Regions from separate parts of the Homo sapiens genome. Here region 1 is reported to be linked to region 2. Evidence: microRNA targets listed by miRTarBase, many of them from high-throughput screens and not tested one by one. Region 2 holds a microRNA gene; the other region holds the end of a gene's coding sequence.

Region 1 (4,413 bases), not on the chromosome of region 2:
GCACATGAATGAAATTATCAGTTTGTTCCCTTCATCAAAGGCACTGAATATTTAATGTACCAAAAAGACATTAAACGTTATACTCATGGAATTTAGCTGCTAAGCATTGTAAGTAACCGCTGACATTTCTGTTAAGAGAATATTTATTTTTTAAGTGATTAAACTTGGTGATTGCTTTTAACACATTTAGATAGTAATTTATTCCTTTTCTTTATTAAACTTTGTTAAGCTTTATTCAACTTTGATCTTTACCAAGGAAACAACATGACCAAAGTACCAAAAAAAGTAAAATAAACTTGTTTTTTGAAAAGAGTCTGTGAACAGGTACATGGTACAACAAACTGATTGGCAAGCAGTCTATGTACTTTTCCAGTTGTCATTCTAAGTAATGACCCAACTTCTCTATAGGCCCAGATATACTATTTCCCACTAAGCTTACTCAAAGATGAGTTTTCATCACTCCTTCCCCATTTTGGTTACTTCAGCACCAGTGAGGGAAATTTACCAAGCAGTCAAGGTGAACATTAACCCAGAATATGAAGAAAGAGTAGGCCTGCTTACTGATGACCTTGACATGTGTGGCTTCCAAGAGGAACAGACTCATTATATGCTTTAGGACTCCTGATTCTTGGATCTCTATTTTACTTTCCTAGGTAAGTTTTATATTACAGATATTTAATATATTTGGCTAAATTATGAATTACTTAAAGATAGAGGCTGTGTCTTCAATGTTAATCCCTCTCATGTCCTAGCACGACATTATTGCTAAATTGAAGTGTGGTTTTGGGCTGAGAATTTGCCCTAGTCTAGATTCAATATTGGAAGACATTATGTATCAAGTAATTAAAAGTGTGATTTTGAGGATCAAACTTGGGTTCATGTATTGCTCTCTTACTAACAGTGTAACACAGAGCAAGCATTGTATTTAATCTCTCTGAATTTCAATTTTCCCATCTGTACAATTTAATAATTATATACATCTCATATGGTTGCTATAGAGAGTAAACAAGATAATGTACATGAAGTAGCCTAGTGAGGCTACTCATGACCACTGTTTTACTATTATTTCTGAGGATAGTTCTAGAGACCAACAAGAGACACCTTTCTGAATTCATTCTATGTGGACTGGACCATGCCCAGGGATTTTCAAGGGTGGCAATAAGACCATACTGGGTGAATTACTTGGTATGCCCTCATGGCTTTAATAAAAGCAGTCAAGTGTATTCCAGTCTTGCACCAATCTGGAACTAACTCTTATGATAGTCTTCTTGTACTCAAGAGGCTGAAAAGATGTAAGGGACTGTTACTCCAACACTGAAGATTTTAAAAAGCTATCCATGTATTTCCAACAGTCAGTGAAGGTTATTATATCTAGAGAGGCAGTTTGATTTTCCATTTTATGCTGATTTGTTATATAAAATAATTATATAAATTTATTTTCATTCAAACCAGTTCACTAAAAGTGTGTGTGTGTGTGTGTGTGTGTGTATTTAAAGTTATTTTTGGATATGAATATTGGTGGGGAAATAATACTTGATTTCAGTTTAGAGTTTAACAAACTCAGAAGTTGATTTTAGATTGTAATTCATGGTTCAGATAAAGTTTTTACTACCTCAGTATTCCAAATACCAGATTCTGACAAAACATTTGGTCACTGAGTCATTCAGATCTTTCCTCTGCTGATGCGATAAACAGTGGCCAGCAAAGAAAACCTCCGCTCGCTTACATCTATTTTTAGGTGTCCTTTAGATTATGAATGTTTGCCTGTATGCGAATATTACATGTCTTCTGTCCATTTATACAATTTTTTTGCTTCATATAACTTCTTTAATATTTTCTTTTTAATTTTTATGGATTTGGATTATTTTTAATCTTCATATCCATTGGCACTCTTTACAAAGAATGAAAATACAAATTTAAAAAGCCTAATTATAGTCTTTCTAATTACAGAAAAAAAACATTCATTAGAAGAAATACTGACTGCTAGAAAGGAAGGAAATTTAGAAATAAACTAAACTTTTCCTTTCATAAGATGGAAAAAACTGAAGCCAAATTTGGTGGTAACTTGTTCAGGGTCTTTAGGTGGAATGATAAAGGGAATACTAGAACTTCTGACAACTGAATTCTGCCTCCTGAACCCCCGCCACTACTCAAGTGGCCCAAAAAGTGCAGTTATTTCTTATTTTGGACTTCTCATTTTTCATATTAACAGTAGTTCATAAGCATTTAAAGATGTATTATTTGCCATTTACAGAGTAAACATGGATAAGGAAAGATAGCTTTATTTTTAAAAGAAATAAATTCTCTATTTAAAGCATACATGAGATAGTATCTTTCATTTAGTCCTAAGCTTGATTATTTATGCTCATTGTAATATTCCAGTGACATTCTGGACATAAATTTCAAGTATATCACCATATACTTATTGTTAAATATCAAACAAAGCTACTGACTGTGAGGGAAAAATTTCAGTGATTTTTTTTGTTTGTTTTTTTGTTACTTACCCTGAGATACTCATCCCACAGTATATCTGAGATTTAGCTGAACATTTACAAATTTTAACAAATTTTTTTTCTTTCCATTGCATGCATCGATATGCCAAATTCTGCACTTCAATCCAGGTAAAATAATGATAGTGTTTGTAAACCAGATAGTGAAAACCAGTGTGTTTTCTAATACTGCCCATGATAGACAGAGTGAAATCACAGCATAAACAGTAGCCAGGAACCTATACTGCAAACATTTGGCTTCAAGTATCTTGCAACAAATAGCTACTAATATGACCATACACGGCACATAGAACACCACAGTCCTGGATTGTAGCATGCCTGTAAAACCCATTAAAGCATTTTTTTCTCAAACTTTTTGTTCATTATTACCCTCCTTCCCAATTACAGAAATTAAATTCAAATTACATTAAATAGTTTTAACTACAAATTTCTTCCCAATGAGATAAATTAATACTAAGGAATAAGATTTTGTTGGATAGGATGATATTGGAAGTCCACAAGCCATATCTAATATTTTTTCACCCCAAGAACCAATTTTTGTCCCCAATTGAGAATGTAATGCTTAAAGTTGATTAAATAAATTAAATAGCCTTTAACATTATTAGAAAAAAACCTAGTGGGTAACAATGGAGGTTGAGATAGTTGACTTCTAGATCATCTTTTTTCCATACTTGCTGTATGAACAGAGAATAAGTCATGTCTTTTTATTTTCTTGTTTTGGAGAACACAGGAATAGCATAAAACCTCATAGCCTGCAAAAATCACTTAATCTCACTGGACTCAATGTTCTTGACTATTAATTGAAAGAACTGGTATAGATCAGTTGGTTTTCAATTCTGGTTGTACTTTCCTAGGGCATATAAAAGATAACAAAAGATAACAACGCTCAGCCATATTTACCCAGACCAATTAAGCCAAGTCTCTGGAGGATATGTTCTAGCCAGTGGGTCTCAAACTGTACTGTAAATCAGAATCACCTGACGGGCTTGTTAAACCAGATTGGTAGGCCTTACTCTCAGAGCTTCTGATTCAGCAGGTTTTGCGTGGGGCCTGCAAATATGCATTATCAAGTTCTCAGGTAATGCTATGCTATTAGTCTATGGATCACACTTTGAGAACCACTGGACTAGGCATATGTGTAAGAGTGACTGTGCGTGTGAGTGTGTGTCCCCAGGTGAATTCTAATCACAAAACTACTGTATAGAAAATATCAATAAGGTTCTAAGTTTTAGGATACTGAGATTTTAATATAATAAGAGTTGTTAAACATCAAGATGATTTATAGAAAGGAGACCTATGGACAAATATCAACTTATTGGTCAATAAAACTTGTTCCTTAAAGTCTTTTACAGTATTTTTTGAAAATTAACTTTTTTTTAACTGCATATATGGGTCTTCACTTCATTTTTCAGTAAAGACAACTTATTTGGATATCAGTGTCTCATCACTTGATAAGACCAGTGGAGGATTTGGATAGTAGCCAGCTGTTTTTGAATTGCTTGAAGAGAATCTTGTAAATTTGTAGTCCAGAGGTAATTCTGGGGAGGAAAAAAAAATTTAATTATTGCACAGGTCTCTGAATGCCTTTCATAAACAAATCAAAACTTGATATTCACTAATAAAACTTATTTTTTAGACGTAAAATTTTAATATTTCTTTTGCTCCTTCAGTAGGTCTGTGTGTAGCTATTATTATAAGGTTAAAAATGTGTATAAACCAACCACCATTGTAATACATATGGCTAATAAAGACAAACTTTTACAACAGCTATAAAAAAGGCTTCTAGGCATTTAAATGTGAATGAGATAACCATGTCTAACAGAATATCCACAAGTATAGAAACATTACTTGAATATAAAAAGGTTTTAAGAGGCAAAAGGGATGTACCAGGTTATTTTTCACT
Region 2 (4,413 bases):
CTACTATGCAAACTACCTGGTGGCTACTATGCCATCCAGTCCACCACTGATGAGCACCTAAGCTGATTCCATGTCTTTGCTATTGTAAGCAGTATGGTGATGAACATTCCTTAGGCTATATAACTACCCAGTAGATAGCATAGTAGCCAATAGTTTTTTAGCCCACAACCCCCCATCCTTCTCTAGTAATCCACAGTGTCTATTATTCCCATGTTTACATCCATCTGTGCTCAATGTTTAGCTTCCACTTATAAGTGAGAATATGTGGTATTGGTTTTCTGTTCCTGATTAATTCGCTTAAGATTATGGCCTCCAGCTCCAACCATGTTGCTGCAAAGGCATGATTTCATTTTTTTATTGCTGTGTAGTATTCCATGAGATATATATATCATATATATATGTGATATATATATATATATCAAATGTGATATATATGTGATATATATATATATCACATGTGATATACATATATTTTCTTTATCCAGCCCACCACTCATGGGCACCTAGGTTGATTCCATGTCTTTGCTATTGTGAATAGTATGGTGAACACATGAGTGCATGTCTCTTTTTGGTAGAATGACCTGTATTCCTTAAGAGTATATACCCAGTAATAGGATTACTGGGTCAAATAGTAGTTCTAAGTTCTTCGAGAAATCACCAAACTGCTTTCCACAGTGGCTAAACTAACTTACATTCCCACTAACTGTGTCTAAGTGTAACCTTTTCTCCACAGCCTCATCAGCACATGCTGTTTTTTGACTTTTTAATGATAGCTGTTCTGACTGGTGTGAGATGGTATCTCATGGTTTTGCTTTGTATTTCTCTCATGATTAGTGATGGTGAGCATTTTTTCATGTTTGTTGGCCACTTGTCTTCTATTGAGAAGTGTCTGTTCACGTTCTTTGTCTATTTTTAAATAGGGTTATTTGGTTTTTGCTTGTTGATTTGTTTAAATTCCTTATAGACTGGATATTAGACCTTTGTCAGATGCATGGCTTGGGAATATTATCTCCCATTCTATATGTTGTCTGTTTACTCAGTTGATGGTTTCTTTTTCTGTGGAGAGCTCTTCAGTTTAATTAGGTCCCACTTAACAATTTTTGTTTTTGCTGCAATTGCTTTTGGGGACTTGGCCATAAATTCTTTGCCAAGGCTGATGTCAAGAGGGTATTCCCTAGGTTTTCTTCTGGGATTTTTATAGTTTGAGGTCTTACATTAAAATCTTTAACCCATTTGTAGCTGATTTGTGTATATGATGAAAGGGTCCAGTTTCATTCTTCTGCATATGATTAGACAGTTATCCTAGCACCATTTATTGAATACGGAGTCCTTCCCCAATTTATTGTTTTTGTCAGCCTTAGAAGACTGCCTATATTTCTAATTGATTACTCCTAATGGGTTTCAACTTAGCCAGAAGGATATTTCCAAAAATCAGATCAATCTTATTATAACTCTAAACCTGGCATCTGACTTCTCTCAGTGTAGACCAAGTAACAACACCAGACATAAGGAAACAGTGTGTATTAGGTGATTCAACCATAACACCTCACTATCACTAATACAGCATAAGCAAAGACATCCCACTCCTCTACCATCTCCCCCTTCATACTACATAGACATCCACACATGCACACACGTACACACATTCACACCCCCCCACCCACAACATGCACACACCCCTTTACATCATCATCAATACAACAGGCACTGGGAAAAAGATAAAGAGAGGGAGAAAGCCAACAACACATCCAACCCTATCCATATCGACACATAAACCCTGTTCAATACGTATACTATACAGAAGCCCTGCACAAGCTTTTAAAAAAGGAAAGTTTTACTACCCCAAATTAAGACTATTTTTAATCAGAAGTAAATAAAAAGTTATTTGTCAAACTGAGATATCACTGTTTCTTGTTGCCCAGCAGGGAAGGAATTCAACAAAGCAAACCTGGCAACAGTTATTGAAAAAAAAAATAGAATTGTCTTACATTCACAAACCATTAACTTGAAACTTCTTCATCAAAACTTTTATTTGTGCAAAGGCCTAGAGGTAAGAATAATCATGATTTATTCAGAGAAAGAAAGAAAATTTCAGAATGTTTGGAGCAGAGAAAACAAGAGAGAAGGAAAAAAGATGGGATTGAGTGGCTAAATGAAGGCAGTTTATAAATAACCCCCAAAGTATTATTCTAAATGTAATGGGGGATGATATTTAATCAGGATAATGCTATGATCTGACTGGATTTTTGGAACCATCCCTCTGGCTCCAATAGAAACATTTTTGGAAGTAATGAATTCAAAATACGGAAGACCAGAAAGGAAGGTGTTTTGAGACTAAAGACAAAAGATGATTGCCTGAACTATGATAATAACAAAAGATGAAGGTAAGCAAAAAATAAAAGGAGAGCCATTTTATCAAATAGAAACACAAGGCTTGATAACTGATTACATATAAAAAGTAAATGAGAAAAGGGCAAGTCATGGAAAATTATTGGGTATTTGGCTTTTATAATTAGGTAGATGGTGGTAATTTCACTGATAAAAAGGACACTAAAGGGGGATATTTATAGGATTTTATGTGGTGATATCTACTAGGTGACTAACAAATTAGATCTGAAGCTCTGGAGAAATATCTTGGCTGAAGATATAGATTTGAGAATCATGATTGAAATTATATAATTGAATTTGTGAGTATGAAAAATATAATCCTCAAAGAGAGGCTACGTGAAGCAAAAAAATAAAAATTCTATCTAGGCTAGAATCTGGAAGAAAATTCATATACAAGAGATTAGCAGAAAGCAGGGAAATTCAAAACAAACTGGGAAAAAGCAGAGTAATTAGAGAAAGTTTAAAAAATGTAATAATAATAGGGAAAAATATTTCACAAAGTAGGGAATATTCAAGATTGTATTAGGTTGGTGCAAAAGTGATTGTGGTTTTTGCTGTTACTTTTAATGGCAAAAACTGCAATCACTTTTGCACCAACCTAATAAATTTGCTGCACAGAGATCAAGTCAGTTGAGGATCAGTTAAAGAAATTATTGGTGACTCTGGCAAGAGCACTTTCAGTGGTGTAGCATGGGACTGGTCTATCAAAACTGCCATCTTATAATCATTCATATAAAACAACTAACCAATAATAAGAATATGGAAGACAGACTCGGCCTGTGTGCTTTGGCAACTTTAAGTTCCTTTGGTACTGCATATGCTGATCAACAAAGTAAATGATATTGAAGGTGTTGAGAGTATGGATACTATGCAATAAGAAATTACCCACAACACAAATGTACCAGAATTTGATTTGACGTGGAAATTTTACAAAATTTGTTTTGGGATTCAAGCTTGCTCTTTGGAAGAATAGTGAAAGACTTACTTATCATCTCCGGAACTCTAAACTTGCTGATGATCAAGGATGAGACAACCAAAATTATTATCACCATAAAAATATTAGTTAGAAGGATTGCATATCATTCAAAGTGTAGTATTACTACCTAAACATTCACTTTCAAATATATTCAAAATTGACTTGGAGTAAAAATTAATATCCATATATGCTTTATATGTTGCAATTCTTCCCAGAAAATCTTATCTTAGGGTCCATTTCACCATCAATATTTACAATGGCAGAGCTCAAAACAGAATAGCTTGCTCCTCCTTTGATCTAAATTGAAAGTGAGAGTCTACTGTATTGGGATTACACAGGTTTAGTGTATTGACCTCCACTGAGAAGGCTGGGAAATCATTGTGTTGTACAGTAATGTCAAATTATACACTTTGACTTTGAGCATTTTTAATGACAAAATTAAAATAAAATGTGGAAATTTTAATATTTATTCTTTTTTCCCAGAAGTTCATGCCATGAAGTGATATTCATCTTCAACTTCAACTTAGGCTGAATATTGACTTTAACCCTTGGCTAGACATTCAGCTAAAATGTGTAATTTCGTGGACCCTACCCAACAGTGTTTCATGGGCTTTTTTAGAAGGGTCTGCAATGTAGCATGCTTGCACAACAGTAAGTAATCAAAAAGCAAGATTCTTGACAAGAAAGTTAATGTGTTTAATTAACATATTAAGCAATCTACAGTAGCCTGAAATGTGTTAATGAAAATCATCTGGGGGAAAAATAAAAGGAAGCCCAGAAAAAGTCCATATGCCTAGCTGATGTGCTAGTTAATTCTACTCAAGGAAGGTTTTCTGTGAAGATTAGTGTAGCAAGAAACAAATCCCTCTGAATTCATGACACGATGCATGCCAAAAGAATAAGGAATTTGGGATTATAAAAATGCCTTATGGTGTGGTTATAGGTACAGGAGAGAGAGCAAAGATAACTAACAACACAAGATTGAGAGAGGATAAATAAGGCAGAGCCCTAGGAGGGATTGGCCTTGGGTAAGAGAGGTCACTTCCTTT

What was found. The annotated mature microRNA hsa-miR-548az-5p reads CAAAAGUGAUUGUGGUUUUUGC and lies in region 2 at 2,922-2,943, shown strand. An mRNA with a match to its seed (bases 2 to 7 or 8) in the 3' UTR can be bound and repressed. Matches are read on the target gene's strand: a 7mer-m8 pairs with bases 2 to 8, a 7mer-A1 pairs with bases 2 to 7 and ends in A, and an 8mer does both.
Region 1: the mRNA of NT5DC1 is a reported target of hsa-miR-548az-5p. Seed matches in the 3' UTR shown: 7mer-m8 at 2,163-2,169, 8mer at 1,458-1,465 and 8mer at 845-852.

What each region holds. Positions count from the first base shown.
Region 1 is chr6:116,243,544-116,247,956 of GRCh38, reverse strand. It overlaps NT5DC1 (5'-nucleotidase domain containing 1), which reads right to left. Exons shown (of 12, transcript NM_152729.3): 12 at 1-4,048. The coding sequence ends at 3,933. Among named protein-coding and RNA genes, the nearest start is that of TSPYL4, 8.3 kb to the left of the region's middle.
Region 2 is chr8:119,322,269-119,326,681 of GRCh38, forward strand. MIR548AZ (microRNA 548az) reads left to right here and starts at 2,903; the gene lies at 2,903-2,997.